Regions from separate parts of the Homo sapiens genome. Here regions 1 and 3 are each linked to region 2. Evidence: fine-mapped expression QTL. A gene starts in region 2. Each other region holds a variant in brackets. All regions are shown on one strand. Distances are from middle to middle.

Region 1 (9,885 bases), 320 kb before region 2:
CTATGATCATGCCACTGCACTCCAGCCTGGGTGACAGAGCAAGACCCAGTCACTAAAAATAAAAATTAAAAAATAAATAAATAAAAGGGGCCCTGGAGAGGTACCTCAGCCCTTCTGCCATATGAGGAAACAGAAGACAGACGTAAACCAAAAAGCCAGCCCTCACCAGACACCACATCTGCCAGCGCCATGGTCTTGGAGTTGTCCAGCCTCCAGAACTGTGAGGAATAAATGTCTGTTGTTGAAGCCACCCAATCTATAGTCTTTGGTTATGGCAGCCCAAACGGACTAAGACACGAAGCTTACCAAATGGCAGAGCCATGTGCTTCCCGAGATCAGCGATGCTGAGGAGAAGGCTGATCTACCCCAGTTCAGGAAGAGGGACTTAGGGCTTTCCTTGGCAATGTTCTGCTCCTGGGGGGTCCTTGGTACTCAAATCTGAACTCTGTTCCTCTGCCTATCAGTGAATGAAAACATCTCCTGGCTTCTCCACTTCCATCATTTTTTTGTTTCCAGCTCTTTCTCTCCTCCCCGTTTTAGCATACAGTAGTCCCCTCTTATTCACAGGGGATATGTTCCAAGATCCCCAGCGGATGCCTGAAGCCTCAGATAGTACCCATCCCTATGTATATTGTTTTTTCCTACAGACTACATGCCTATGATAAAGTTTAATTTATATATTAGGCACAGTAAGCAATTAACAATAAGTAATAATAAATAGGACAATTATAACAATGTGCCAGCATCACTACTCTTGCAAGTTGGGGCCAATGTTAAGTACTACAAGGGTTTCTTGAACACAAACACGGTGATACCATGACAGTAGCTCTGACAACCAAGATGGCTAAGTGACTAACCAGCAGGTAGAGCCTGGATGCGCTGGACAAAGGGAGGATTCACGTTGCAGACGGGATCAAGCTTACAGCGAGAGATCTCATCACGCTGCCCAGAATGGTGCACAGCTTAAAACTCATGGATTATCCCCTCTCCCTCTCCCCACGGTCTCCCTCTCCCTCTCCCTCTCCCCACGGTCTCCCTCTCCCTCTCTTTCCACGGTCTCCCTCTGATGCTGAGCCGAAGCTGGATGGTACTGCTGCCATCTCGGCTCACTGCAACCTCCCTGCCTGATTCTCCTGCCTCAGCTTGCGGAGTGCCTGTGATTGCAGGCACGCGCCGCCACGCCTGACTGGTTTTCGTATTTTTTTGGTGGTGACGGGGATTCGCTGTGTTGGCCGGGCTGGTCTCCAGCTCCTAACCGCGAGTGATCCGCCAGCCTCGGCCTCCCGAGGTGCCAGGATTGCAGACGGAGTCTCGTTCACTCAATGCTCAATGGTGCCCAGGCTGGAGTGCAGTGGCGTGATCTCGGCCCGCTACAACCTCCACCTCCCAGCAGCCTGCCTTGGCCTCCCAAAGTGCCGAGATTGCAGCCTCTGCCCGGCCCCCACCCCGTCTGGGAAGTGAGGAGCGTCTCCGCCTGGCCGCCCATTGTCTGGGATGTGAGGAGCCCCTCTGCCTGGCTGCCCAGTCTGGAAAGTGAGGAGCGTCTCTGCCCGGCGGCCATCCCATCTAGGAAGTGAGGAGCGCCTCTTCCCGGCCGCCATCACATCTGGGAAGTGAGGAGCGTCTCTGCCCGGCCGCCCATCGTCTGAGATGTGGGGAGCACCTCTGCCCTGCCGCCCCGTCCGGGATGTGAGGAGCATCTCTGCCCGGATGCCCCGTCTGAGAAGTGAGGAGTCCCTCCGCCCGGCAGCCGCCCCGTCTGAGAAGTGAGGAGCGTCTCCGCCTGGCAGCCACCTCGTCCAGGAGGGAGGTGGGGGGGGTCAGCCCCCCGCCCGGCCAGCCGCCCCGTCCGGCAGGTGAGGGGCGCCTCTGCCCGGCCGCCCCTACTGGGAACTGAGGAGCCCCTCTGCCCGGCCAGCCGCTCCGTCCGGGAGGGAGGTGAGGGGGTCAGCCCCCCACCCGGCCAGCCGCCCCGTCCGGGAGGGAGGTGGGGGGGTCAGCCCCTCGCCCGGCCAACCGCCCTGTCTGGGAGGGAGGGAGGTGGGGGGGTCAGCCCCCCGCCCGGCCAGCTGCCCTGTCCGGGAGGTGAGGGGCGCCTCTGCCCGGCCGCCCCTACTGGGAAGTGAGGAGCCCCTCTGCCCGGCCAGCCACCCCGTCCAGGAGGGAGGTGGGGGGGGTCAGCCCCCGTCCGGCCAGCCGCCCCGTCGGGAGGTGAGGGGCGCCTCTGCCCGGCCGCGCCTACTGGGAAGTGAGGAGCCCTCTGCCCGGCCACCACCCCGTCTGGGAGGTGTACCCAACAGCTCATTGAGAACAGGCCATGATGACAATGGCGGTTTTGTAGAATAGAAAGAGGGGAAAGGTGGGGAAAAGATTGAGAAATCGGATGGTTGCCGTGTCTGTGTAGAAAGAGGTAGACGTGGGAGACTTTTCATTTTGTTCTGTACTGAGAAAAATTCTTCTGCCTTGGGATCCTGTTGATCGGTGACCTTACCCCCAACCCTGTGCTCTCTGAAACATGTGCTGTATCCACTCAGGGTTGAATGGATTAAGGGTGGTGCAAGATGTGCTTTGTTAAACAGATGCTTGAAGGCAGCATGCTCCTTAAGAGTCATCACCACTCCCTAATCTCAAGTACCCAGGGACACAAACACTGCGGAAGGCCGCAGGGTCCTCTGCCTAGGAAAACCAGAGACCTTTGTTCACTTGTTTATCTGCTGACCTTCCCTCCACTATTGTCCTGTGACCCTGCCAAATCCCCTTCTGCGAGAAACACCCAAGAATGATCAATAAAAAAAAAATAATAATAATAATAATAAAATTAAATTAAATTAAAAAAAAAAACTCATGGATTATTTCGGCCGGGCGCGGTGGCTCACGCCTGTAATCCCAGCACTTTGGGAGGCCGAGGTGGGCGGATCACAAGGTCAGGAGATTGCGACCATCCTGGCTAACATGGTGAAACCCCGTCTCTACTAAAAATACAAAAAATTAGCCAGGCATGGTGGCAGGCATCTGTAGTCCCAGCTACTCAGGAGGCTGAGGCAGGAGAATGGTGTGAACCCGGGAGGCGGAGCTTGCAGTGAGCTGAGATCGTGCCACTACACTCCAGCCTGGGCGACACAGCAAGACTCCGTCTCAAAACAAAACAAAACAAAAGACTCATGGATTATTTCTAGAATTTCACATTTAATATATATTTCTTTTCTTTTCTTTAAGACGAGGTCTCACTCCATTGCCCAGGCTGGAGGGCAGTGGTACCATCAGAGCTCACTGCAGCCTCCATCTCCTGGGCATAAGCCATCCTCCCACCTAAGCCCCCCAAGCAGCTGAGATGACAAGCGCATGCCACCACACCCGGCTAATTTTCGTATTTTTTGCAGAGACGAGGTTTTGCCATGTTACCCAGGCCACTCTTGAACTCTTGGACTCAAGGGATCCACTTACCTCAACCTTCCAAAGTGCTGGAATTACAGGCATGAGCCACCATGCTTGGCTCATTTAATGTTTTCAAACTGCAGTTGATCATGGGTAACCGAAACCTGAGAGGGTGAAACTGTGGATGAGGGGGAACTATGTACATTAAATACATTCCTTCAGGTACATGCGCGAAGAACTGATTGTATGCTAGGCACACAATGCTGCTGGAAATAGAAATATTTCAACCACTTTTCTCAAGGTGTTTACAGACTAATGAGAAATTAAATTTAGTTTTTTGTTTGTTTTTGTTTTTGTTTTTTTGAGACAAGTTCTCACTTTGTCTCTGGCTGGAGTACAGTGGCACAATCTCAGCTCACTGCAGCCTCTGCCTCCCAGGTTCAAGGAATTCTCCTGCCTCAGCCTCCCAAGTAGCTGGGATTACAGGCGCCCGCCAACATGCCTGGGTAATTTTTGTATTTTTAGTAGAGATGGGGTTTCGCCATGTTGGCCAGGCTGGTCACAAACTCCTGACCTCAGGTGATCCACCACCTTAGCCTTCCAAAGTGCTGGGATTACAGGTGTGAGCCACCACGCCCGGTCCAGAAATAAATTTCTTTTTTTTTTTTTGAGACGGAGTCTCGCTCTGTTGCCCAGGCTGGAGTGCAGTGGCACAATCTCAGCTCACTGCAAGCTCCTCCTCCCGGGTTCACGCCATTCTCCTGCCTCAGCCTCCCGAGTAGCTGGGACTACAGGCGCCCGCCACCACGCCCGGCTAATTTTTTTGTATTTTTAGTAGAGACAGGGTTTCACCATTTTAGCCAGGATGGTCTCGATCTCCTGACCTAGTGATCCGCCCGCCTCGGCCTCCCAGAGTGCTGGGAATACAGGCATGAGCTACCGCGCCCGGCCAATAAATTTCTAAATGAAGGAAATTTGGAAATGAAATATAAGTTGTACAAATGGACAAGTGGCATAATATTATGTTGTACAAAGGGACTTTCATTATTCCTGATGAAAACTCATGCCAGAGCTTACATTTGTTCCCTCCAGAAATCTCAGTAAAATTTT[A/T]AAAAAAAGAAACATTTATAAATGCTTATGGACAAAAGGAATGGAAGAGAAGATGATATCAGACAAAAGACATCAATGAAATTTTGGAAGATGTAAAATGGAGGGGCCCGTGCCACCTGGAAAGTAAGCTGGTTTGTGCTGCGGGACCCAGGAGTGGTCAGGAATCGGAGGCTGAGCAGCAGTGTTGATGATAGTCTTTAAAAAGAATAGATAAGAACCCCAGATCTCCTTTCCCAGCCCACGCAGCCATGCAACTACACCACCTCCACCACTAAGGGAAGTTTATTAACTCCAAAGGAAGACTTTGGAGCCTCAATATCAAAACATAGCTAGACACCAGATATTGTTCCAAAAAAGGGAATTTTGTGAACATTTGGGTACTGAGATGCTATTCCCAGATCCTTCCCCTGCAGGGCTTTTACCTTCCCCAGGCAGGAGAAAGGAGGAAAACTCTCTGGGAAAACTGATCCATCGGCCGGGCGCGGTGGCTCACGCCTGTAATCCCAGCACTTTGGGAGATCAAGGCGGGTGGATCATGAGGTCAGGAGCTCGAGACCATCCTTGCTAACACGGTGAAACCCTGCCTCTACTAAAAATATGAAAAATTAGCCGGGCATGGTGGTGGGCGCCTGTGGTCCCAGCTACTGGGAGGCTGAGGCAGGAGAATGGCGTGAACTCGGGAGGCAGAGCTTGCAGTGAGCCGAGATTGCGCCACTGCACTCCAGCCTGGGTGACAGAGCGAGACTCCATCTCAAAAAATAATAATAATAAATAAATAAAACTGATCCACCCAAGGGGGAAGAAAATCTACAGATCTAACATCTGGGGACCTGACCTAATGACTCTTCATGACACTCACCAGAAGAATAGCTTCAAACATGCACATGGAGCTGCGATGAATAGACAGCCAAAGACTACTAGAGCTCTGAGGGAAGTCCGCCCCGCAAAAAAAGACCAAAACATGGCTGGGCGCAGTGGCTCACACCTGTAATCCCAGCAATTTGGGAGGCCAAGGCAGGCAGATCACCAGAGGTAAGGAGTTCAACACCAGCCTGGCCAATGTGGTGAAACCCCGTCTCTACTAAAACTACAAAAATTAGGCTGGCATGGTGGCAGACGCCTGTAATCCCAGCTACTCGGGAGGCTGATGCAGGAGAATCGCTTGAATCAGGAGGTAGAGGTTACAGTGAGCCAAGATCGCACCACTGCACTCCAGCCTGGGTGACAGAGAGAGACTCTGCCTCAAAAACAACAACAACAACAACAACAAGAAAACGCCCATCCAAAGTACATCACATGGAATTTCAGAACACCAAGAATGAAAGCAATGCTTCCAAAGAAAGAAAATTACAGTTACAAAGCCTAGGACAGAATCAGTCTTAGTGCTAACAATACTGGGAAATTGAAGGTGGTATAATAATGTCTTCAAAAGTCTGTGGAAACATTTTTGCAATCTAGACTTTTATACCCAGCCACACAATCTACCTATCAAACTATCAAATATACAGGTGGAATAAAAATATCCAAGTTCTCAAAAAATTGTGAGAAGACTTGGTTGATCAAAACAATGGAATAAAACAGACAAAAGAATAGGAAACAGAGCATTCAGGAAACAGGGATGCCAATACTGGAGAGAGAAAAAGGGTTATCCTACAATGATGGTATAGAGAAGATACAGGATTGGAGCAAGCCATATGATTCCATATATAAAATTCTAGAAAATGCAACTAGTCTATAATAATAGATAGTAGACCAGTGGTTGCCTGGACATGGGGGTGAAGGGAGGAATAGATTATAAGGGAGCATGAGGAAACTTTTGAGTGTGCTGGAAATGTCCATTATTTTAATTATATTAATGGATTCATGGGTGTACATGTGTCAAAACTCATAAAATTGTTCACTTTAAATATATGCATTTTATTGCACCTTAAATCAGAATCAAGTTGTCAGAATCAATAAAAAATAAAAAACAACAATAAAAGGCCAACCCTGATAAATGAGTCAGAGAAGGTCCTGAAGAGAGGGTTCTCATGCTTGTATGCCTCATAAAACACTATCACAAATGTTGCAAAAAACACAACCTAGTGCAACAGCCATCCCAACCTTACACAAAAAATACTTCTGCAAGGACATCTGCTCGGCAATTGCCTGTCCAACCTCAGACTGGTGCCACCCTTGTTACTGATCTTTGTAGCAAGGATAATTATTTCAAAACAATTATGTAATCTTTCTCTTTTTTTTTTTTTTTTTTTTTTTGAGATGGAGTCTCCCTCTGTCACCAGGCTGGAGTGCAGTGGCACGATCTTGGCTCACTGCAAACTCCACCTCCTGGGTTAAAGTGATTCTCCTGCCTCAGCCTCCCCAAGTAGCTGGGACTACAGGTGCACACCACCACACCCAGCTAATTTTTTTTGAATTTTCAGTAGAGACAAGGTTTCACCATGTTAGCTAGGCTGGTCTCAAACTCTTGACCTCAGGAGATCCGCCCACCTCGGCCTCCCAAAGTGCTGGGATTACAGGCGTGAGCCACTGCACCCCATCTCTTCCTTATTTTTTCCTGTAAACAATGTGTCTTCCTGTCTGAATATGCACATAGTTTACCATGGCATGCATATTTCCACTGCAATGCTCTATTCCCAAACAATACCTTTTTCTTTCGGAGAACTTCTCTCTCTTTGTTTTTTAGGTTGACACTTTTGTTTTTCTTTTTCTTTTTTTGAGACAGAGTCTCACTCCATCACCAAGGCTAGAGTGCGGTGGCATGATGTCAGCTCACTGCAACCTCCGCCTCCTGGGTTCAAGTGATTCTCATCCCTCAGCCTCCCGAGTAGCTGGGATTACAAACACCCCCCACCATGCCCAGCTAATTTTTGTATTTTTAGTAGAGACGGGGTTTCGCCATGTTGGCCAGGCTGGTCTCAAACTCCTGACCTCAAGTGATCCACCTGCCTCGGCCCCCCAAAATGCTGGGATTACAGGCGTGAGCCACTGCACCCGGCGGTTGACACATTTTATACCAATAAAGCAGTAAAAAAAAAAAAAAAAAAAATTAGGAAAACAAGCGAATTGGTGAAGTGGAAGATTGGTCAGAGGTAACTATCCACAAAGAAGCCATAGAAATAAAAAGAAGCAAGATACAGAAGAAATAATAAAAAGCAGATATGACATGCTTGAAAGGTCTACCGTGTTTTTTTGGAGTCCCAAAATGAGAAGAAAGAATTCAATAGCTCTAACAGAACCTAAAGGAAGAGAAATGATATCACCAAAGTGCTGGAAGACAAAATAACTGCTAAAACAAATTTTCTACCCAGAGAAAGTATCCTTTATTAATGAAAATAAGAAAAAGACATTTTCAGATTAGCGGAAGCTGAGAGAGTTCTCCAAGAGCAGGCCCCCCCAACTCAGAGAAATTCCATAGGGTGTTTTTTGGGCTGAAGATCAATGACCTCCACATGGAAGCTCAGAGACGCAGCAAAGAATGAAGAACTAAGACGTTCAAGGAGTGTTCAGAGAATAAGCGATATATTTTTCTGACTAGAACCAAAGATCTATAAAGGAAAGCCGGAGGGTATAAGGCTGAAAATATGTGAACCGAGATCAACAAGGGTCCTAAATCCCAGGCAGGAGGAAGAAGAAAGGGGAGCATATCTGGAGAAATATTAAAGTTAAGAGAGGCCAAGCATGGTGGTTTATGCTTATAATCCCAGCAACTGGAGAGGCTGAGGCGGGAAGATCACGTCAACCCAGAAGTTTAAGGCTACAGTGAGTTATTATGACACCACTGCACTCCAGCCTGGGTGACAGAATGAGACCCCATCTCCTTAAAAAAGAGAGAGAGAGAGAGAGAGAGAGAGAGAGAGAGAGAGAGAAAGCTCACCAGCCAAGGACAGAGAGGTTACAATGAAGAGAAGTCAGGTGATATTGTTAAATAATGCCTAATCCAGGCAGATGGCAAGAAAACAAGGCCACTGGGTTCAAGAAGTAATAGGAAACTTTGAGAAGGTGATATTCATGAAATGATGGGATGAGCAAAGAATTCAAGAATGAGTGGTGGCCAGGCATGGTGGCTCACGTCTGTAATCCCAGCACTTTGGGAGGCTGAGGCGGGGGGATCACCTGAGGTCAGGAATTCGAGAATAGCCTGGCCAACATGGTAAAACCCCATCTCTACTAAAAATACAAAAATTATCTAGTTATGGTGGGAGGCTGAGGCAGGAGAATCGCTTGAACCCAGGAGTCGGAGGTTACAGTGAGCCAAGATTGCACCACTGCACTCCAGCCTGGGCGACAGAGCAAGACTCTGTCTCAAAAAAAAAAAAAAAACACCAAGAGTGAGTGGTAAAGGAAGGAGAAGCAGTAGGTGCTTCCACTTAGAAGTCCAACAAAGACCAAACTCTACTTCTACAAAATAGGACCCTTGGTCACTCCCCTCCCCAGCCTGCCTCTTCCCCAGTCTTCCTCAGCTCCACAAACAGCCTTACTACCTAGTAACTCAAGCCAAAATATAGAAGTAACCACCAATTCTTCTCTTTTCTTTATTCCCCAAGCCCAATCAATCAGTAATTCCTGTTGCCTCCAATCCAATGTGTGGTCCATGTGTGACCATTCCCATTGCTCCTGACTGAGTCTAAGTCCAAGGCCACCGTCATCTGTTCCTTGGAACACTGCAATAGCCTCTGATGGGGTAGGGGTGAGGGGATGCCTCCATTCTTGCTCCTTTGAATCCAATCTCCCTGGAGAGATCATTCAGGTAGGACAAAAATCAGACCATGTCATTTCCCTGCTTAGAATCCTTCAGTGGTTCCCCATTGTGGCCAGAATGAAATTTCAATTGCTGAGCACCATGTTTAAGGCCCCTGGTGATACCGCCCTGGTGTGGCTTCTCTAACCTCCTTTCCTATCACTCTCCCACCTTCGTCAGCTCTGCGCTCACCTGCTCTCTCCCTGGTCCTGCACACCAAACCTGTTCCTGCCTCAAAGGCTTTGCCCTGGAGATTCTTCCCCCTTGCAAAGCTGGGTCTTGCAAAGCTGGGTCCTTCCCATCATTCAGTTCAAAATCACCTCCTGGGATAGATCTTCCCAGACCAACCAATGTGGAGTACCTTTCCTGCACCGGAGATGTTCCACCATTACATCACTATGTTGTATTTTACTTACACACTGATCATCTCAAATTATCTTGTGTATTCACTAATTTGTTTCTTTTCTGCACCTGCCCCGTGCCACGCTGAGTGTTCATGTGGCGCCCGGCCTTGAGTGTTACTTTCACTAGCACAGCACCCATTTCTCTCTTGTGAATTGCTGAGACTCTAGTGCCCATTTCAGGACTCTGTCTTCAGACTTAAGGATAAGAGGAATAGACACTAGGGTGGGGGGAATGTATAGGCTATTAATATGAGA
Region 2 (9,885 bases):
GACAGTTTGTCAATATTTTTAAAGAGTATAAGCTAAATATAATGAATTAATATCTGCTGTTGATATAATAATTATCTCTATGAAGTCATTCATAAAATATTTATTGAGTACCTACTATGTGCTAGGCACTCTTCTTGGAGCTTGGGATACAGCAGTGAATAAAACAGTAAAAAATTCCTGCTCTATACCTTCTAGTTGGGGGAGAGGCAATAAACATATGGGTGCAATACGTATTAAATGGTGTTAGGTGCTAACGAGAAAAATAAACCAGGGAGGAAAACTGGGAGTACTGGAGAAGAGTGGGGGGACTGCAATGGGCCTAATAGAGAATGGCTGGGGAAGGCCTTATTTAGAAGGTGATGTTTGCCTGAGTAAAGGGTGGCCCAGGCAGAGGAAGGAGCAAGCGTGAAGCCTCTGAGATATGTCCGGCACATTCGAAGACTGTCCGGGAGCTCAGGGTGGCTGGAGCTAAGTGAGCCAGGGGAGAGAGCTCATGAGGTCAGAAGCGTGGATGTGGCTGTGGGGCAGAACCCTGAATGCCACAGTGAGGACTGTTCAGATCCCAGATTCATTGTGAAGGCAGAGCTTGCAGGATGTGCTGATGGTTTGGATGAGGGGTGTGAGGGAGAGAGAGAGTCACGGGTGACTCCTTGGGTCTTGGCTTGACCAACTGGAGGGACGGGACTGCAATTTCCTGGGATGGCCATTTCTGAGGGGCATCAGGACAAGGTGAGTGTCGGGTACCTGCCATGCAACCAAAGTGAGATTTGGTGCAGACAAGGGATACATGGATCTGGAATTTAGGGGAGAGCTCTGAGCTGGCCAGAGATATGTATTATACAGATGGGACTTAAAGTGATGAGACAGGCTGGGTGCAGTGGCTCATGCCTGTAATCCCAGGACTTTGGGAGGCCAAGGCGGACAGATCACCTGAGATCGCGAGTTCAAGACCAGCCTGGCCAACATGGTGAAACCCTGTCTCTACTAAAAATAAAAAAATTAGCTGAGTGTGGTGGTGGGGGCCTGTAATTCCAGCTACTCTGGAGGCTGGAGCACGACAATCTCTTGAACCCGGGTGGCAGAGGTTGCAGTGAGCCGAGATCGCGCCACTGCACTCCAGCCTGGGCAGCAGAGCGAGACTTTGTCTCAAAAAAATAAAAATAACAATAAATTTAGAGTGATGAGACAGCCAGGCATGGTGGCTCATGCCTGTAATCCCAGCACTTTGGTTTGGGAGGCCAGGATGGGTGGATCGCTTGAGCCCAGGAGTTCGAGACCAGCCTGACCAGACTCTATAAAGAAATACAAAAAATAGCCGGGCATGGTGGTGTGTGCCTGTGGTCTCAGCTACTCAGGAGGCTGATGTGGGAGGATCATGTGAGCCCAGGAGGTCGAGGCTGCAGTGAGTTGTGATTGCACCACTGTGCTCCAGCCTGGGTGACAGAATGAAACCCTGTCTGAAGGAAAAAAAAAAAAAAGTGATGAGACAGAATGAGACCTCAAGAGTTCAAGCACTGCTTGGGGCTTGTCTAAAGTTCTGACAGGAGGCAGGGAGGCAGTGCCAGCAGAGCAGGCTGAGCAGTGGCCAGCGAGGGAGGAAGACGGACGTGAGGGAGGAGCGCTTCCAGGATAGGGAGGTCACATCTGCTCAATGCCGTTGAGAGGTCAAGGAAAATGACTTCTGACAACAGATTATCGGATTTAGCAACTTGGAAGGAATTAGTGACCTTGATAGATTGACTGGTAGAATCAAAAACCAAACTGGAACAGGTTCAAAGGAGGATGGGAGGTGAGGGGAGAGGGTGTGTGTGTAAGCAGCTCTTTTGAGATGTTTTGCTGAAAGCAGGGATAGAAATGGCCCATAGCTTGAGGAGCAAGTAGAAAATAGCCTAACACGAGAAGGTGAGACTGTGGAAGGTGCAAAATCAGTGTAAATCCATTAGCACTATGGCCAAAATCATTCACAAGGTTTTTGCTGAGGAATTGGGCGCCCCCATTGCCATCCTTAAAAACAGGGCAACATCATAAGTAGTAATCTGGAGCACTATTTTCTTTCTACAGTGCAGAATGGGTACATGATAATCTCTGGGCTGAGCTGTTATCTTTTCTGGGTCCCTCTACCACCTTCGGGGTAGTGATGTGAGCAGGAGGGACAGATGCTGTCTCAGGTGGAAGGGTAGCCACACCCTTTCCCAAAAGTATAGGAACTGTTCCAGATCACTTTTTGGCCTCACTCTGGAGGGCCCAGGCTATTTCATTCTAAACCACTTGGCCCATCCTTGTCTAAGATTCCCTCTGGTTCAGTGTGTGGCTGGAATCTGGCTTTTTGTGTCCCTGATTTGTGTCCCAAGCAGCATTTGAACTTTTTTTTTTTTTAAGAGACAGAGTCTATGTTGCCCAGGCTGGAGTGCAGTGGCTGTTTACAGGAGCCATCAGAGGGCACTGCAGCCTCAAACTCCTAGGTTCAGGGGATCCTCTTGCCTCAGCCTCCTGGGATTATGGGTGCAAGCCCCCATGCCAGGCAGATTTAGAAGATTTTGAACAATGAAGTGTCTGTAATGCTCAGAGGAGCAAGCACACCTATACAGGGAGCATGGGGTCTTAGTAAATTCTTGCTGCACTCATAGCTGGGGGAAGAGCAGTATAGAGAAACAGAAGGTTTGAGGAGGGAAGAGGAAGAAAGGCCCTACCTCAGCCTGCCAAGTAGTCCTCACAACGGTCAGGAAAGTATTTATCACCCCCATATCATAGGTAAAGAAACTGCCAGGCTGGGAACAGTGATGCACACCTGTAATCATAGCACTTTGAGAGGCTAAGGCAGGTGGATCACTTGAGCCCAGGAGTTCAAGACCAGCTTGGGCAATGTGGTGAGGCTCCTTCTATACAGAAAAGTACAAAAATTAGCTGAGCATGGTGGCACATGCCTGTGGCTCCAGCTACTCAGGAGGCTGAGGTGGGAGGGCTGCTTGAGCTCTGGAGGCAGAAGCTGCAGTGAGCAGGGATTGTGCCACTGTACTCCAGCCTGGGTGACAGAGCCAAGACTCTGTCTCAAAAGATTTAAAAAAAAAAAAAAAAAAAAAAAGGAAACTACCTTGCCTGAGGCTCTAAATCTAGTTACTGCTTCCAACCATTTCAGGATTCAATTGGGAAGAGGTGGTGTTTGAACAGGCTTGGGGGCCCTTGATGCTTGCATCAACTTAATTCTCACTAAAAAACAAAAGTCTGCGTCCGGACGAGGTGGCTCAGGCCTGTAATCCCAGCACTTTGGGAGGCTGGGGTGGGTGGATCACCTGAGGTCAGGAGTTCAAGACCAGCTTGGCCAACATGGTGAAACCCTATCTGTGAGAGGTGACAGCATGCTGGCAGTCCTCACAGCTCTCGCTCGCTCTCAGCGCCTCCTCTGCCTGGGCTCCCACTTTGGCGGCACTTGAGGAGCCCTTCAGCCTGCCGCTGCACTGTGGGAGCCCCTTTCTGGGCTGGCCAAGGCCGGACCCGGCTCCCTCAGCTTGCGGTGTGGTGTGGAGGGAGAGTCGTGGGCGGAACCGGAGCTGCGAGCGGTGCTTGCGGGCCAGGGCGAGTTCCAGGTGGGCGTGGGCTCGGCGGGCCTCGCACTCGGAGCCGCGGCCGTCCCCGCCGGCCCCGGGCAGTGAGGGGCTTAGCACCTGGGTCAGCAGCTGCTGTGCTCAATTTCTCGCAGGGCCTTAGCTGCCTTCCCCCGGGGCAGGGCTCGGGACCCGCAGCCCGCCATGCCTGAGCCTCCCCCCACTCCATGGGCTCCTGTGCGGCCCGAGCCTCCCCAATGAGCACCGCCCCCTGCTCCACGGCACCCAGTGCCATCGACCACCCAAGGGCTGAGGAGTGTGGGCACACAGTGCGGGACTAGCAGGCAGCTCCACCTGCAGCCCCAGTGCGGGACCCACTGGGTGAAGCCAGCTGGGCTCCTGAGTCTGGTGGGGACATGGAGAACCTTTATGTCTAGCTAAGGGATTGTAAATACACCAATCGGCACTCTGTATCTAGCTCAAGGTTTGTAAACACACCAATCAGCACCCTGTGTCTAGCTCAGGGTTTGTGAATGCACCAATCAACACTCTGTATCTAACTACGCTGGTGGGGACTTGGAGAACCTTTGTGTCGACACTCTATCTAGCTAATCTGGTGGGGACATGGAGAACCTTTGTGTCTAGCTCAGGGATTGTAAACACACCAATCAGCACCCTGTCAAAACAGACCACTCTGCTCTACCAATCAGCAGGATGTGGGTAGGGCTAGATGAGAGAATAAAAGCAGGCTGCCCGAGCCAGCAGTGGCAACCCACTCTGGTCCCCTTCCACGCTGTAGGAGTGTTGTTCTTTCGCTCTTTGGGTCCACACTGCCTTTATGAGCCGTTAACATTCACTGTGAAGGTCTGCAGCTTCACTCCTGAGCCAGGGAGACCACGAACCCACCAGAAGGAAGAAACTCCAGATGCGCCACCTTAAGAGCTGTAACACTCACCACGAGGGTCCGCGGCTTCATTCTTGAAGTCGGTGAGACCAAGAACCCACCAATTCTGGACACATCTGTACTAAAAATACAAAAATAAGCCAAACGTGGTGGTGCATGCCTATGGTCCCAGCTACTCAGTGTGGTTGAGGCAGGAGAATTGCTTGAAACTGGATGGCAGAGGTTACAGTGAGCTATCACACCACTGCATTCCAGCCTGGGCGACAGAACGAGACTCTATATCAAAAAAAGAAAACAGGCCAGGCGTGGTGGCTCACGCCTGTAATCCCACCACTTTGGGAGGCAGAGGCGGGCAGATCACAAGGTCAGGAGATCAAGACCATCCTGGCTAACACAGTGAAACCCCGTCTCTACTAAAAATACAAAAAATTAGCCGGGCGTGGTGGCAGGCGCCTGTAGTCCCAGCTACTTGGGAGGCTGAGGCAGGAGAATGGCGTGAACCTGGGAGGCGGAGCTTGCAGTGAGCTGAGATTGCACCACTGCACTCCAGCCTGGGCAACAGAGCAAGACTCCGTCTCAAAAAAAAAAAAAAAAAAAGAAAACAGAAAAACAAAATTCTTAGTATAAAAGTCTTGAAATCACAGAGTTCTGACTTTGACTGCCCCTGCTTCTGGGAGCTACAGATCATGCTGTGGGCTGCCTCCACGGTCTGGTAACTCAAGGGTGACCGGGGTGAGGCACAGTTCCTTCAGAGCTACCTAGCTGAGTGTAAATGGGTTGTTCAAATTGCACTAGGGAGCCGGAGTTGCGTGGGTTTTAATTTAAAGATGTAAGTACAAATCTATGTGCATTGTAGAAAATTCGGAAAAGGTCCAACTGCCTAGCAAGTAAAAAGCTGTCATTCCAGCACGTGGGGGGTGACCGCTTCTCCCTTCTTGGGTGTTTTTTGGTGGATTTTTTTTGGTGACCCCGACTGGCCTAGACTCCATTCAAGGGCACATCTTGTGCAGTAAAACACGCATGTTTCAGGGCTCCTCACTGCAACACGTGCACCTCCAGGCTGGCGCTCAGCGCTCCCAGTAAAAGCTGCAGGCGGCGGTGTAGATAGTCGCCGGCCTTTCCTCCTCCCCACCTCGTGACGCTTTGTGCTGCGGAAGCAAAGGCCCGTTCCATTCCCCGTGTCTTCCCAGCAGCCGCCACCAATGCTCCTTTCTAGGAAACAGCCTTCCATTCTCTCTTAGGGCCGATCTTAGCGAGAGCCGCGATGCGGGCGACTGGTGCCGGGGTGGGTTGGGGGCGGGGGTGGGAATCAGGCCCCACTGCCAGGAGCCCGGGCCGCGCCTTCCGCTCTGACCTCATCCGGCCGCCCAGGCACTGGGCGCGGCAGCGAATCGGCGGCGCGGGCGGCCGGGAACGCCCAGCACAAATATTTACCGCCGCGCGGAGAGTGAGGGCCCAAGTCCGCCCTGCTCCGCCACTTAGGCCGCCCCAGACGCTTCCCTCGGGGCTGCCACCGGGTCGGGCGCGGCTGCCGCGGCTAGCGGGCCTTCCCCGCACCGGCGCGGCCCAACCGCCACCGAACCTTCTGGAAGCGGCGGCTGCCTGGGCCCCCACGCCGCCAGAATCGTACGCCCGCGCGAGCTCTCTGCAGCCTTGGCGGCCTGGGAGGCGGGGCTCGGGGTGGGGCCGGCGCGGGGGCGGGGTCGGCGCGGGGAGGCCGCGTTCGATTGCCCCCGGCGCGCAGGCCCCGCCTCACCAGCCCCATCGCTCCACCTCTGCCCTCCCCCTTTATGGCGCGGCCCGGGCTCATTCATTCCGCGCCGGGCCTGCCAGACACCTGCGCCCTTCTGCAGCCGCCCGCCGCATCCGCCGCCGCAGCCCCCAGCATGTCGGGCCCAGACGTCGAGACGCCGTCCGCCATCCAGATCTGCCGGTAAGAGAGGGCCCGCGCGCAGCCTGCAGCGGCCAGGCGCGCCGGTCACCGCCCCAGGCCTGCCCCGCTTGGCTCTGTGGTCCCCACCCGCCGAGGCCGCCCCCGCCCGCCGATTCCCCGCACGGCCTTCCGCGCCGCCGCCCCGGACGCCCGCCCGGCCGGGATGCGACTCGCGATGCCGCACAAGCCGGGCGGCCCCCGCCCGCCTCCAGCCGGCTCCTCCTGGCCGCATCTCCAGGGCGGCGGCCGCGCCACGGGCCGTTTGGGCGAGAAAGCCAGGCAGGGACGGGGCGGGCGGAGGTCAATGCACAGCTCCAGAGCCCGGCGACCGGCGCCCGTGGGCCGCCCCGCCTCGGGCCTCGCCCGAGCATCCCGGAGCCTCAGCCCCGTGGTCCTGCTTAGCCTCCTCGAGGATTCGGGATCATTACCTCGGCGGTTGTGCTGCGCTAACCAAAGCCCCCAGAGGTGGAGGGGAGGTGCCCAGAGCCGCGCGAGCCCCTCGGTGGGTGCCCCTGTGGGAGGAGGTTGCAGAGCTACCGTCTTCAGTGCACTGCTTCGGTTTGGGGGAGGGCAGGTGTTGAAAGGAAGAACAGATAATACTGTCTACCTCTAACAGTTTACTATGAAGAAAAGGGAATCAGTGGTCTGTTGGGCCTGAAAGCATCTTACACAATAGAGGCAAAGGGTTGTCCTTCTAGAGCACCCCCTCTTCTTCCACCAGGTACTGAGTAGATAGATGCAGGCCCCCAGAGGAAGCTGGAGGCTGGAGATCATGAACAAGCTCATTTCCCATAGGAGGTGGGGAGGGCAGCCTGAAGGTTACTCTGCAGTTCTCTTCGGCAGAATCGGAAGCAGCAGGCTGGCATTTGTGCATGAGCTAAGTGAGGACAAGGAGTCTAGGTTTTCAGCCACTGCACACAGGCTCTGTGGCCTGCGACCGGTCCTATCCTGCTTGATGAACTACCAGGAGTGAGAGCTGCTTTCTGTTTTGGTAGTGGGTTCCTCACATTTGGGGGTTGGGCATCACAGACTGACCTTGGGCTCAAGCCAAGTCCAATAGAAGCAAGTTACTTTCCTGTAGATGTTGACATCTCCAGGAAGGCTGGGCATATAGCAAGTCCTGGGTCTATGGCGATTCTTGACTCTCAGTCTCATCTTCTGGCCTGGTCGAGGGCCTCTCCTTACCTCAAGGTCGGTTTTGACTTTTCCAGAGGGGGAACGTCTTTGGGGGAGCCCTGCCCCTTTGACTTTGGCTCTGTGGCTGTTCTGGTCCCATCGACTCTGGAGGTGGGGAAAGCGGGGCAAAAAAAAAAAAGGAAATAACTGGAGACAGACAGCCTGCATCAGGTTCCTGAATCAGCTCTGCTGAGTATTGGCTGGGAAACTTGGGCTCCATGGTTTGCAAAGAGCTTATACCTGTCTCATCCCACTTGGTTTGCCCAATTCCCTGGGAGGTTGATGGTCGGTAGTGCCACCCTTACCTGTGTGGAGGAGGAAATGGCAGTTTTGGGAGTTGAGTAACTGTGTAAGGTCATCCTGCTCCAGGAGATCCAGGGACAGCCCCTGCCCAAGTCTTCTGACTCCAGATCCAGTATTCTTCCCACCCCTCTCCTGAATAAAGGAAACCTTGATTTAAATCTTCCCGTGGAAGGCTGGCCTTTTATTTACTTCTTCAGGGTGGTGAATAGCCAATTTATACATGTTGTCTTTTTTCACCCAGCTTCTAACAGTTACTAGATTTTTTGTTTTTTGAGACAGAGTCTCACTCTGTCACCCGGGCTGGAGTGCAGTGGCCCGATCTCAGCTCACTGCAACCCCTGCCTCCTGGGCTCAAGTGATTCTTGGGCCTCAGCCTCCCGAGTAGCTGGGACTACAAGAGTGCGCCACCACGCCTGGCTAATTTTTGTGTTTTTAGTAGAGATGGGGTTTCTCCATGTTGGCCAGGCTGGTCTCGAACTCCTGACCTCAGGTGATCTGTGATCTGCCCTCCTCGGCCTCCCAAAGTGCTGGGATTACAGGTGTGAACCACCGCACCCAGCTGGAAAAAGTTCTTGTGCCTCAGCCTCCTGAGTAGCTGGGACTACAGGCGTGCGCCACCACGCCCAGCTAATTTTTGTATTTTTAGTAGAGATGGGGTTTCATCATGTTGGCCAGGCTGGTCTTGAACTCCTGACCTCAGGTGATCCTCCCGCCTCAGCCTCTCAAAGTGCTGGGATTACAGGCGTGAGCCACTGCTCCTAGCCTAGTTACTAGATTTTTGTATAGCTTTAGACACTTCCATACAGTAAGTGTGTGCTTTTTGTTTGTTTGTTTGTTTGTTTTTGAGACAGTCTCGCTCTGTCACCCAGACTGGAATGCAATGGCACGATCTCAGCTCACTGCAACCTCTGCCTCCTGGGTTCAAGCGATTCTTCCACCTCAGCCTCCTGAGTTGCTGGGATTATAGGTACCCGCCATCATGTCTGGCTAATTTTTGTATTTTTAGTAGAGACGGGGTTTCACCATGTTGGCCAGGCTGGTCTTGAACTCCTGACCTCAGGTGATCTGCCCGCCTCGGCCTCCCAAAGTGCTGGGATTACAGGCGTGAGCCACTGCGCCTGGCCCGTGTGTGTGCTTTTTCTTACCCACTGTAAACCAAGTCTGCTATCTCAGGTTCACAATTGCATATTGTTTCTTTATTTTTTGGAGATGGAGTCTCACTCTGTCACCCAGGCTGGAGTGCGGTGACACACTCTCGGCTAACTGCAACCTCTGCCTCCTTTGTTCAAGTGATTCTCCTGTCTCAGCCTCCCGAGTAGCTGGGACTACAGGCGTGCACCACCGTGCCCAGCTAATTTTTGTATTTTTAGTAGAGATGGGGTTTCACCATGTTGGCCAGGCTAGTCTCGAACTCCTGACCTTAGATGATCTGCCCGCCTCGGCCTCCCAAAGTGCTGAGAATTACAGGCATGAGCCACCGTGCCTGGCCAATTGCATATTGTTTCTAAGTGGCTGCCTTGGCCAGACGACTGGTGAGGAGGATGCTTGGCTGCCCCTGCTCATGAGTGAGCAGGTGAGCCTCAGGTGCAGAGCGTGACTGCCAAAGGAGTAGGCGGGAGTGGTGGTAGGGGTAGGCCTGTGAAGAGAAGGCTGTGGTTCCATCGGCTTGACTCAGAGAAACCGCAGGACACTGGAGAGTGACTGTACTAGGATGGGGAGCCCTTTAAGGACATCTGAGCTGACACCCCAAGTTGAAAGAGGAGCCTCCTGGCCTAGCACAGCCAAGCCCATGAATTTAACAATGCTTTACTGGACACTGCCAAGAAGCATAGCACCAGGAGGGAAACGTGTGGAAAATGTGGCCCCTGCCTTAAGGGGTCACAGTCTAGCAGGGGTGAGAACGTCCAAATTCCCACCATCTTAGACACAATGGTCACATGTTCTCAGTTCAGACATTGTTGAAGGGATAGGGGCTTTTTTTTCTTTCTTTTTTTTTTTTTTTTGAGAGGGAGTCTTGCCCTGTCCCC
Region 3 (9,885 bases), 120 kb after region 2:
GCATCACAAATACAGTTTGTCCTGAATGGAACTCATTATCACACCCGCAAAAAAATCCCTCTCCGCCTCTGTGCTGCTCTGGAAGTCTGGGAACCCAGCTGGCTCCTCCCTACTCCCCCCATGCCCACGCCCACCCAGTGCCGCTCCACTCCTCTCCCGAACAGCTCTTACTGCCCCGTCCCCATGGGGCCCCTGCTCAGTCCTCAGCTGCTCCTTCCTCTGTTCCTGGTGCTCTCAATGTGACCCTTCCCTGCAGCCCAGGAAACTGGTCATCAAAATCCGAGTTGCTCCCTCTCCCACCGAAATGCACGGTGGCTCCTCCATGCCCTGGGTGTGGGTGCAGCAAGCTCACTCCTGCCCGGCGCCTGTGCACCTGCTGCTCCCATCTGGACCACCCTCCCCAGAGCCTCCTGGAGCTACAGCACTTCTCAGACGTTTTTTCCTTAGAAGGGCACCCACAACCGCTCTAGAGAAGCGTCGCCTCCGCCACCCCAGACCCCCTCCCAACCACCCCCCGCCACTGCAGACGCTGCGTGGACTGTCAGGCTCACATATCCAGGAGCAGGCGCCTGGCTGCCCGGGTCAGCCAGAGCTCTAAACTTACTAGCTGTGTGGCCTTAGGCACGCACTTTCTATGTGCCTCGGTTTCCTCATCTGTACGGTGGTGATGGACACGGTGCCCACCATGTGGGGTGGGTGAAGATGGGGGGCCTTCATCATCTGCTGCTGTTCACCTGCTCTCCCTGGGGCCTCACACCCTCTCAGAGGGAGGAGTAAACAAACAGTGAAGATAGAGGAAGTTGAATGGTGTCCAGGGTCACGAAGAAGACAGCAGGGAATGAGGGGATCGGAGTGTGCCGGGGGACAGGTACAATTTTAAATATGTTCCTTCCCAAGGAAAGCCTCAGCGGAGGCCTGGAGTCAGGGAGGAAGGGCAGGAGCTGTCTTGTGGGGACCATTCAGGTGAAGGGAACGGCGAGGGCCAAAGGCGCAGAGCCACTGTCTGTAACGGGGGAGCTTGGGGACAGTGACACACCCGAGGCCACCCGGCTAGGACGGGGCAGGGCTGGGGAGAGAGGGCTGGTGGGAGTCTATGGGGCTCACGCATATGGGCGTAAAGTAGAGGAGGATCTGGGTGACCTGTGCTTTGAACAGGCTTCAGTGCAGGTTGATGGGGTGCCCTGGGGCATCTCCCAATAGCAGCCCTTCAAAGCTGATAGTGGGGGGCATCCTCCCAGGTTGGCAGCGGCTGCAGGCGTGGTTGGTGTTTGCCCACCAATGACGGTTCCCTCTCCCGGCTGCCCCCAGCTGGGCTGTGCACACTGGTTGTGGGGTCAGGACCACTGCACCTACCCCAGCACTCAGCTGGTTCAGGGAGACCAGTGCAGTGACCACGAGGGGCCAGCGATCCATGGGCTCTCAGGGAGGGGACCTCTGTGCCTCACGTTCCCCACTCCCTATAGAGTCCAACCTGAGGGGGTCCACCCTTGTGTGGATAGCAGCCTGCGGTCACGGAGGCTTTTGGGGCCGCGCCTGTGACCTTCCCAGAGCCAGCTGGGGAGCAGTCCTGGGGCCGCCCCTTCCAGAACTCCATACCCTGGGGGGGGGTGGTCAGAGTGCAGGAGGAGGGCCAGCCCTGGGGGAAGGGGCTGCAGAGGGGCAGGGAAGGGCGCCAGCTTGAATGGAGGGAATGGCAGCCCATCCCCTGGGTGTGGCCGCGTCATGTTGATCTACGCTGTTATTTCTCACTCATTAAAGATGGTCTTTGATTCTTCACTGAGGTGTCCTGGGGCCCATGGATGTCAATGTTGATGTTGATAGAAATAGCCACTGGCGGGGCAGGCTGCCCGGAGAGGGATTTTCAGCTCTCACTTGGGGACTGCCCACATGAGCACGAGTTCTGGGCTGGGAGCACGTGTGTGCTCCGTGCGGTGAACCTGCATGTGCGTTCCGTCCCTCCAGATGTGCCCTGGCGGCCCCTCCTCCTACTCCCAGTCGCCTCCCTCATCCCCACGTCAGCTTTCTTCAGCCTCCTGTCTATTTTTAGCTCCCTTCCCCAGGGCCTGGCTGACACGGATGCAGCCTCTCTGCTTGGAGTTGCGTCTCCATGAATATTTTATGCTGGGGGCTGCCGCACCCGCTCCGGGCAGCTGCCAGCACTTCCCGGTCTCGGTCTCGTATTAGAAGAGGCCAACTCAGCGCGTAGAGGCAGGCCTCCCCGTGGCAGTGCCCTCTGACCTTGGGCCGAAGGGGGCTGGAGAAGTGGCTTGTGGGGAGGGACAGCAGGACGCAGGCGGCAGCAGACAGATGTGGGAAGGCTTTTCAGCCTGCAGGAGGGTCAGAGCCGTGTGTCTGCTGAAGCGGAGGACGTCCCTGGCACCTCAGGTGGGGGCTGTACTTGCCTCTGATTCTTGCAGGCGTGGGCATTGTAGCCTCTACAGGCCCAGGGAGTTGGGGCTGAGAACTTGTGGGTCCCAGCCTGGGCCTGAGGAGGAGGTGTAGACAGGGCGGGGTGAGGGGCTCGCTGAGGCCCCTGACCAGGGAGAAGCCTGTAGCCTGTTCCATGGCTGTCAGGGCTGAGTGAGCGCCGTGACCCCACTGCTTCCTGGGCACACTGGGGAGGGGATGTGTCCCCAGATTAGCCGAGGCTCCAACTGTGCAACCACATTATGCAGGGCAGGGTCTTTGCAAAGCAGGCTTCCAAACTGGAGGGAGCCCATCCCAGAGGGTCTCTCTGGTGCTCATGAACACACATCTCCCGAGGTGGCCAGCCCAGGACTCCGAGCTTCAGTCTTTAGCCACCGAAATGTTTTCTGGATGGAAGTGGGAGGCAGTAATGAAGGCAGGTGCGGCCATCTTTTTTTTTTTTTTTTTTTTTTTTTGAGACGGAGCCTCACTCTGTCGCCCAACCTGGAGTGCAATGGCTGGATCTCGGCTCACTGCAACCGCTGCCTCCCGGGTTCAAACGATTCTCCTGCCTCAGCCTCCCGAGTAGCTGGGATTACAGGCGCATGCCACCATTCCTTATTAATTTTTGTATTTTTAGTAGAAATGGGGTTTCACCATGTTGGCCAGGCTGGTCTCGTGATCCACCTGCCTCGGCCTCCCAAAGTGCTAGGATTACAGGCGTGAGCTACCGCGCCTGGCCTAGCTGTGGCCATCTTTACCTTGCCTTTCAGAGCTGCCTCATGCATAGCCAGGGGAGTTCCAAGAACTCAGGGAAAACGCACCCTGTTGAGCTTTGTCCGCTCTGACGTGCCCCGACCTAGAAGAGGCCCTGAGACCCTTGGGCTCCTTCAGGTTGAGGGAGCCCTACCAGGCCGGGGGCCATTCTCAGCAGGTTTGTTTTCTGGTTAGGAAGCCAGGGCAGCTGGATGCAGAGGCTGCTGCCTGTCTCCTGGGTGGGCAAGGGACTGGAGGGGCAGGGGAGGCTTCCTCTTGGGTGGTGCCTGGGTACAGGTCATTGAAGCCGGAGGCTTCAGGGAACGCCAACCCCTCTGCGAGCTGGTGTGTCTGCTCACAGATGCTTCCCATCCCCAGACAGGAGGCGGGCACCAGGCAGGGAGTCACTCGCCAGGGGTCGCACGGCCAGCAGGCCCATCTGTGACTTCACTGACTGGGAAAGGGGGCCGCTCACTGCTGTCATCGATGCCACTGTGCTTTCTCCCAGCCAGGCCCTACTGTGGGGTCCTGGGAGGAGCCCTGCCTGAGAACCCTTCTGTGCAAGAACCTAAACCCTGGGAGTCCCAACGCGCTGCCCACCTGCACTGCGCCGCCCACCCACACCGCGCTCAGCCCAGGGCCTTTGCTTCAGCCCCAGATGATCTCAGGACCAGTGCTGGGCAGGTGACTGAACCTCCACAGGCCACTGTGGAGTGTGGGGGTTGGGGCACATTTTAGTGGAAAGTTTTCCACTCCAGTTTGATTCTTTTGCCTCTGCTGGGGCCTTATGTGAGGCGTGGCCTCAGCACAGACCCACACAACTTTCAGAAGGCTCTGGAACATGGTGCCCACCTCGCTTCTGCTGCTGCCCTATGACCTCCTTCTCCTGGCCTCAGCTGGTTCACCTGCATGAGTGCAGGGGCCGGGTAAGCCCCGCGCCAGCCGAGAGGACAGCGTGGCATGGGCTGGAGCGTCCGGAAGGAGGGCACTGTTTGACCTGCTGTTCAGCTGGAGGGGCGGGATGGGCCCCAGGGCTTAAGTCAGCTGAAAGGCCCTCTGCAGCCTTCTGGAAGTTGTCTGCCATGCAGTGCTGAGGGCCACAGCTTTGTGACGCACTGATGTGGGGGCTGCAGACAGAGCAGGCTGGAGATGCCTCTTGGCTGTGGCTGTCTTGAGCCGTCGCCAGGCTGTTACC[C/T]CAAGTTCCCTCTCCGTGCCTTCTCAGTGATGCTGTAATTGGAAGGTCCCTCGCCCCTTTGCACTTAGGAGGAAGCATGGGGCAAGCTTTCCATGATGGTGCCTGCTGCTCCCCACCCCCAGGACCTGCCTGACCCCCAGGCACGGTGTGCAGAGGGGCCTGGGGTCCTCGCATGGGCCCCGTTCCTCTCGAAGAAGCCTCAGGAGCAGAGGTGGCCATTCCTGACCGTGTCCAGGCCGGACCAGGACAAGAAGAGAGGTCCGGTCCCAGGATGTAGGACAGAGAAAGAGGTCCCCACGTGGGGCCTTTGTCACGGGGCAGGGCCCTAGGGTCTCTGCTGCCTCGACATCCTAGACACCCCGTTGCCACAGGCTCCTGCTGGCAGGGAGGGGCCGCACCTACTCCCAGAGAATTTCACTAGCAAAAGAGTGGGCGGAAGCACTGTGTGGTGGCCGCGCGCAGCCTCTGCACTCGCCCTGGGATGGGCACCGCTGCGCCCGTGTGCGGGCTCTTACACTGGCTTCCTTTGTTTGTTTGGCCAAGATTGGACTTTTGGAATAATTTTTTAATTGTTGACTAATTTAGGAAATTCAGCTGTTACTGGAGTGCAGAAGGTTGACGGTGTGTTCCTGGAAGGGCTTGGTGAACCGCCTGCCGCGTTTGGCCATTAGTGAGGGAAGCCCTGCCCCCCTCCTGCCCCCACCTTGCTGCCAGCCCACAGGCGTGAGTCATGGACTGGAATATTCATGAGGCTCAGAATCCAGTGTCGTGCTCTCTGTTCCTTTTGCCTGCATTTAGCGGGAGTCAGTCTTGTGATGGGAAAATACCTGCATCCTGAAGCTGCCCCTGTCGCCTCATTGGTTAGCGCTTAGGAACATCCGGTGGCCAGTGAGTCCCATGTGCCTAGAACCCGAGCATGGGTGCTGAGAAGGAGGTTGGCGCAGATGAGAGCATGTAGCCCTCCCCTCCAGCCTGGCTCTCGCCTTCCCTCTGCCTGAGCCCAGACTCTTTCTCCAGCCACCTTTCATGTTTCTGCTCTGCATATATCTCTGAAAGATCCACTGTGTCCAGACAGCCACACACTGGCCCTTCTGAGCGGCACTGGTAGGTAGCTCTTCTGATGCCACTGTGGCCTAACCGGCTGCGGGGGGTTAAAAACCCACCTGGGCACAGTGAGCTGCTCATGTTCTCCCCCTGGAGGTTTACAGAAGGCTCTGCTCAGAGCCAGGCCTGGGGGGCATACAACAGAGTGTGGGATGGAGCCTTGGGGCCTCTCTGTCCCCACTGCTGTCAGATTTGTGACACGGACAGAGTGAGCACTGCCAGGAGGGGGGCTGTACCAGGAGAGGCCCGTGGGTGGGATTTCCAGAGGATTCAGTGAACCGAGGGAGCATCCCGGCTAGACCCAGGGTGCTGCGGAAGGTGAGCGAGAGATCTGTCAGGGAGGCCTGGAAAGGTTGTTGGGCCCATGTGAGGTCCTGGCCATGGGACTTGGAGTTTTTCAGCAGGGCGAGTTCATGCCTGGAGTATCCTGGGGCTGGAGGCCGCCCACTTGGCTCGGCGCTCTCAGCAAGGGGTGTGGAGTGTCCTGGCAAAGGCTCTTTGCGGCCAGACACACATCTTGAGCCCTGCAAGCAAAGGTGCAGGAAGAAACAGGCCCTGTGCCCCACACGGTGGTAGAAAGGATGCAGAGCCCTCCCCACCTGTGTGTGCAGGATCAGAAGCAAGTCCCCAGCATGGCCACAGAGCTGGCCCATCTCCAGGGGGATGGCCAAGCCTAGGTGTGCTGGACACTCTCATCTCATCTTTGTCACTGTTGCAGGCTCCTGTTCAGACCCTCCATGGTCTGAGCCCCCTGGAATTGATTGGGGACAGATGATGCCAGTGTTCATTGAGCAGAAGTACTGGTTTTGAATTGTTAACATAAAGACCATCCCTATTTAGAATTAAGCCTTTTTGATCTTCATTTGTTTGATCATTCATTCATTCATTCATTCATCCATCCAGCAAACACCTCCTGTGCCCCTGCTATGTCCAGGCATGGTGCTGGCCTCCAGCAGGACAGGAAGGGCTCCACAGGGCATAGCACAGAGTGGGCACACGCACAGCAGAGGTGTGCCATGAGCACGCGGCTTCTGGCCCAGGCCTAGCCCACAGTGGGCACTCAGCAGGTGACAGCTATGATCATTATTGGTGTTGTAGGGTGGGGACCGCCATGTCCACACTCCGGCACAAGAGCTGTGAGCCGAGCGTCCCGGGACCACGGCACTCCGTGCCTGCAGGAGGGGCTCCTGAGAGGCCACCACCCAGGCCCAAGTCCCAATGCCTTTTCTCCCCTTTGTGGTGACGATCTCCCTGCCTCCGCCAGCAGCCTCCCGTTGGCCTTTACGCCTCCTTTCTTGGCCCCACTTGGGGGCAGTTCTTTCGGAGTCTGAGCCGGTGCTGCTGGGTGAGGGGAGCCCCTGGTGAGGGTGTTTATGACTCTCCACAATGATCTCATTATTTGAGACTTCCGGCTGCTTTCTGCTGGAGGCTGGTGCAGTCCTGGGTGGGTGTGGAGGAGGAGGTAATTAACCCAGGCCTGCAGCTGCTGGGAGAGGCCACAGCGGATGGCGGAGAGGCCACAGCGGATGGCGGACAGGCTCCGCTAAGGCAAGGTCCTCAGGTGGAGCAAGACCCTGGGGGCACAGGTGCTTGTGAGGCTGGTGGTCCTGGTGCTAAGCTCATCATTGCTGGCTTCTCCATGCACAAGGCCCCTCGCCCGGCCGTGCTGAGTGTCCTCAATAATGAGATGTTTTCATTGCTTTTGTGATTATCCCAAGACCCCTCTTGTCTCCTGTTATAACAGGGAGAGGGCATGCTACGTGGCTTCCTAATTAAGAAGGTCTGTGTCCCTCAGGCTTACAGGAAGTTGTTATATCACCACTGGAAACCCTTTTTACGCCATTCATTAATTACAAAAAGGACAAGCTATTGATTTTACCGAGGGTGGAACTTAGTCACTCGTCCTCCATACCATGTTCCAAATGTGTGTTCTCCAAGCACAGAAAATGCAAAGTGGAAAACATTTGGTTTGCAGCACTTGGCTCTGAAAGCCACAGGCTTCCCCTCCAGTGGAAGAGAGCCCAGAAGACAGCAGTGGCAGGAAGCACTAAGTGGAGGGAGGAAAAAGATGCAGACCCCAGGCCCAGGCAGCCACTAGGCTGCAGGGGAGCCAGGGGCTTGGTGCTGAGTGCCAGGCGGTGCTCCCTGAGCACCAGGGAGGGAGCGTACTGTCAACCTGCTACCTTGGGACCCTCCCCACCCCTGCGTCCCCATGTGTGGGTGTGACATCCTAAAGGGCCCGCTGCGTTAAGGTGACCCCGGGCCATCTGGCCCTCCTTTGGGGCAGCCACACACCAGCAGGACAGTCCTTGGAGCAGTTCCCAGGCTGCACTTGGCCTCAGGTATTTCTGAGGACAGCAGGACCACCACACAGACACACACACATGCACCAGGGACCGCAGACACATGTGCACACACACGTAGGAGCTCACGTGCACCGGCACCATAGGAAGCACTTTGCCATGTCACTTTGTTGAGTTCCTGTTTCCAGGTGAACAAACCTGGCCCTGGGCCACACAGCTGGGCCCGTGGGACTCAGAGTCCTGCTCCTGGCCATGCTGCCCCATCCCTTCCATCAGGCAGGTGCCCGGGATACATGGGGGTCATGTGCCCTGAGCTGCCCTTTGCCACCTCATCCTTTCTCTCTGGCATATTCTTGGGGAGCCCCAGAGGCTCGGAGGAGCCTGCCTGAGGCCACAGGTGGGTGCCCGGCAGCTGGCACCACTGGCCAGTGCCCCAGAGGCTCCAGTCCTTCCCCCACCAGCAGCCTCGGGGACTTGAGAGAGACATCTGTCTTCCCGCAGAGCGTTCTTTCGTCCTCCACCCACCCCCAACCCTCCATTAAAAACAGCAACAGCCAACAGCGTATGCATTTATTTACTTTGCTGGGTGGAGGGAGATGGCTGCGAGGAGGCAGCAGCCGGGCCGTGGGTGGGGCCTTGTGCTGGAGACATCTGTCTTGCTCTGTCAGCTTCTCACCCAGCGGGACAGGGTGGCCCCTTTGTCACTTGGGTAGGAGAACTATTTAGCAAAGCCATGACCTGGGGAGGCTGGCTGCCCACCAGCAGTGAGCCCGTAACCTACCATGGGACAGACACCGCCCCGCGGCCCTTTGTTCCACCTCCCCCTGGGTGGTGAGCCTGGGTCCTCAGGCACCTGGGACATCCCTGCCCTTGACTGCCATCTTCATAAACCTTCACCCTGGAAGGGCGCCCCTGGGCACTCAGGGAGGAAGGCCGCCCGCACCTTGGGAGGGCAGCGCTTATGGGCGGGCACTCCACGCAGTGACGTTGAGGCTCCTGGGCTGGTCTGGACTCTGTCTCAGAGCCTGGAACATCCAGCAGATACTACCATCCCGGGAGACGGGAAGAGCAGTGGGGCCCTCACAGGCTCTCAGGCTCCCACACATCCATCCATCATCAGACAGCATTTGCTTTGTCTGAGGGCAGAGCCTGGCTGATGAGTTTGCTGCAAATATTAAAGAGCAGGGCCACATCAGAGCCGCCTTGGGGCCCGTTGCTGGGCACCAGATTCTCCCTCAGCCTGGAGCCGACCCTGAGAATGACCTGCACCTGGGCTCGTGCCCGCCTCAGGCTGTGTATTAACTGACCTCGAGAGAAGCAGTCACAGCCCTCGGCCTGTGGCATTGGGAATGCTCGATGGCCTGGTGGCCGCTGGGGTGGGAGCAGCTGTAGTGGTTTGGGATAATATGGCTGAGGGCAGGGCAGGGCCCCCGCCTGGGGGAGGCCAAGCTCAGCAAGTGCTCCTAGGCTGTGCCGAGGGCCGGGGTGAGGTGAGGGGAGGCAGGGAAGCCCCTGACCCTGGTTCATCGTGGACACGCTGCAGGTCCATCGCCTTCCTCACTTCCCATGGACGAGTCCCACCCCTAAAAGTCCCTCGGCATAGGACGACCTGGAGGGCAGCCCCCATGCCCAGGTTTAAATGGAGGCTCTCCCCTTACCCGCTGTGTCACTTTGGGCAAGTTACTCAGCCTGTCTGTGCTTCACTTCCTCATTGGTAAAAGTGGACAATCATTTCTGTGCTGCTTGGTGGGGTTGTTGGGAAGACCCTGATGTGCACAGCCTGCCGCGCCCTAAGCATGGGTTGCGCAGGGAATATCCCCTTATCGCTGTAGTCCCTGCCCCACGTGCACAGCCCATGTGGGGGCAAAGGGGTGGGAGGGCTCTCGTCTGCAGTGCCTTCTGCAGACCCAGAGTTGGGTGGTCCTCCCACGCCCTCGGCGGCTGGAGGGCTGTGGTCACATCTCTGGTAAAGATGCCGAGAGCTGTAGGAAGTTACTCCTATTCCACTCCCAGGTGGTCATGGAGGCCAGATCGTTAGGGGACTCGAGGGCTCCGCTCCACTGCTGCGTGTGGCTGGCAGAGGTGAGGACCGGGCTGTATGAAGCCCTGGAGGTTTTCTCG

Alleles and levels. Positions count from the first base shown, and alleles are read on the strand shown. Sizes are in standard deviations (SD) of each study's normalised expression.
For the expression in spinal cord of the gene that starts at base 5,869 in region 2, allele A in region 1 goes with a higher level than allele T (large effect, 0.83 SD a copy in GTEx).
For the expression in fibroblasts of the gene that starts at base 5,869 in region 2, C is the high allele of the variant in region 3 and T is the other (small effect, 0.29 SD a copy in GTEx).

The links. PIP is the estimated chance that this variant, and not a neighbour inherited with it, causes the effect. A credible set is the group of variants that fine-mapping cannot tell apart.
Region 1: its variant is the best candidate, but not a certain one, in a credible set for the expression of ACOT7 in spinal cord (GTEx, PIP 0.70).
Region 3: its variant is the best candidate, but not a certain one, in a credible set for the expression of ACOT7 in fibroblasts (GTEx, PIP 0.71).

Annotation. Positions count from the first base shown.
Region 1 is chr1:6,707,430-6,717,314 of GRCh38, reverse strand. No RefSeq gene overlaps it. Among named protein-coding and RNA genes, the nearest start is that of DNAJC11, 11 kb to the right of the region's middle. RefSeq lists an enhancer at 2,205-3,026. The variant A/T (reference allele first, on the strand shown) is at 4,486.
Region 2 is chr1:6,389,751-6,399,635 of GRCh38, reverse strand. ACOT7 (acyl-CoA thioesterase 7) reads left to right here and starts at 5,869. Exons shown (of 9, transcript NM_007274.4): 1 at 5,869-6,379. The coding sequence starts at 6,237. RefSeq lists enhancers at 3,708-4,232, 4,985-5,495, 5,496-6,008, 6,009-6,520 and silencers at 5,749-6,198, 6,469-6,558.
Region 3 is chr1:6,268,714-6,278,598 of GRCh38, reverse strand. All of the region lies in intron 8 of ACOT7 (acyl-CoA thioesterase 7), which reads left to right. Among named protein-coding and RNA genes, the nearest start is that of GPR153, 13 kb to the right of the region's middle. RefSeq lists enhancers at 3,005-3,595, 7,738-8,328, 8,329-8,920 and a silencer at 4,810-4,976. The variant C/T (reference allele first, on the strand shown) is at 4,358.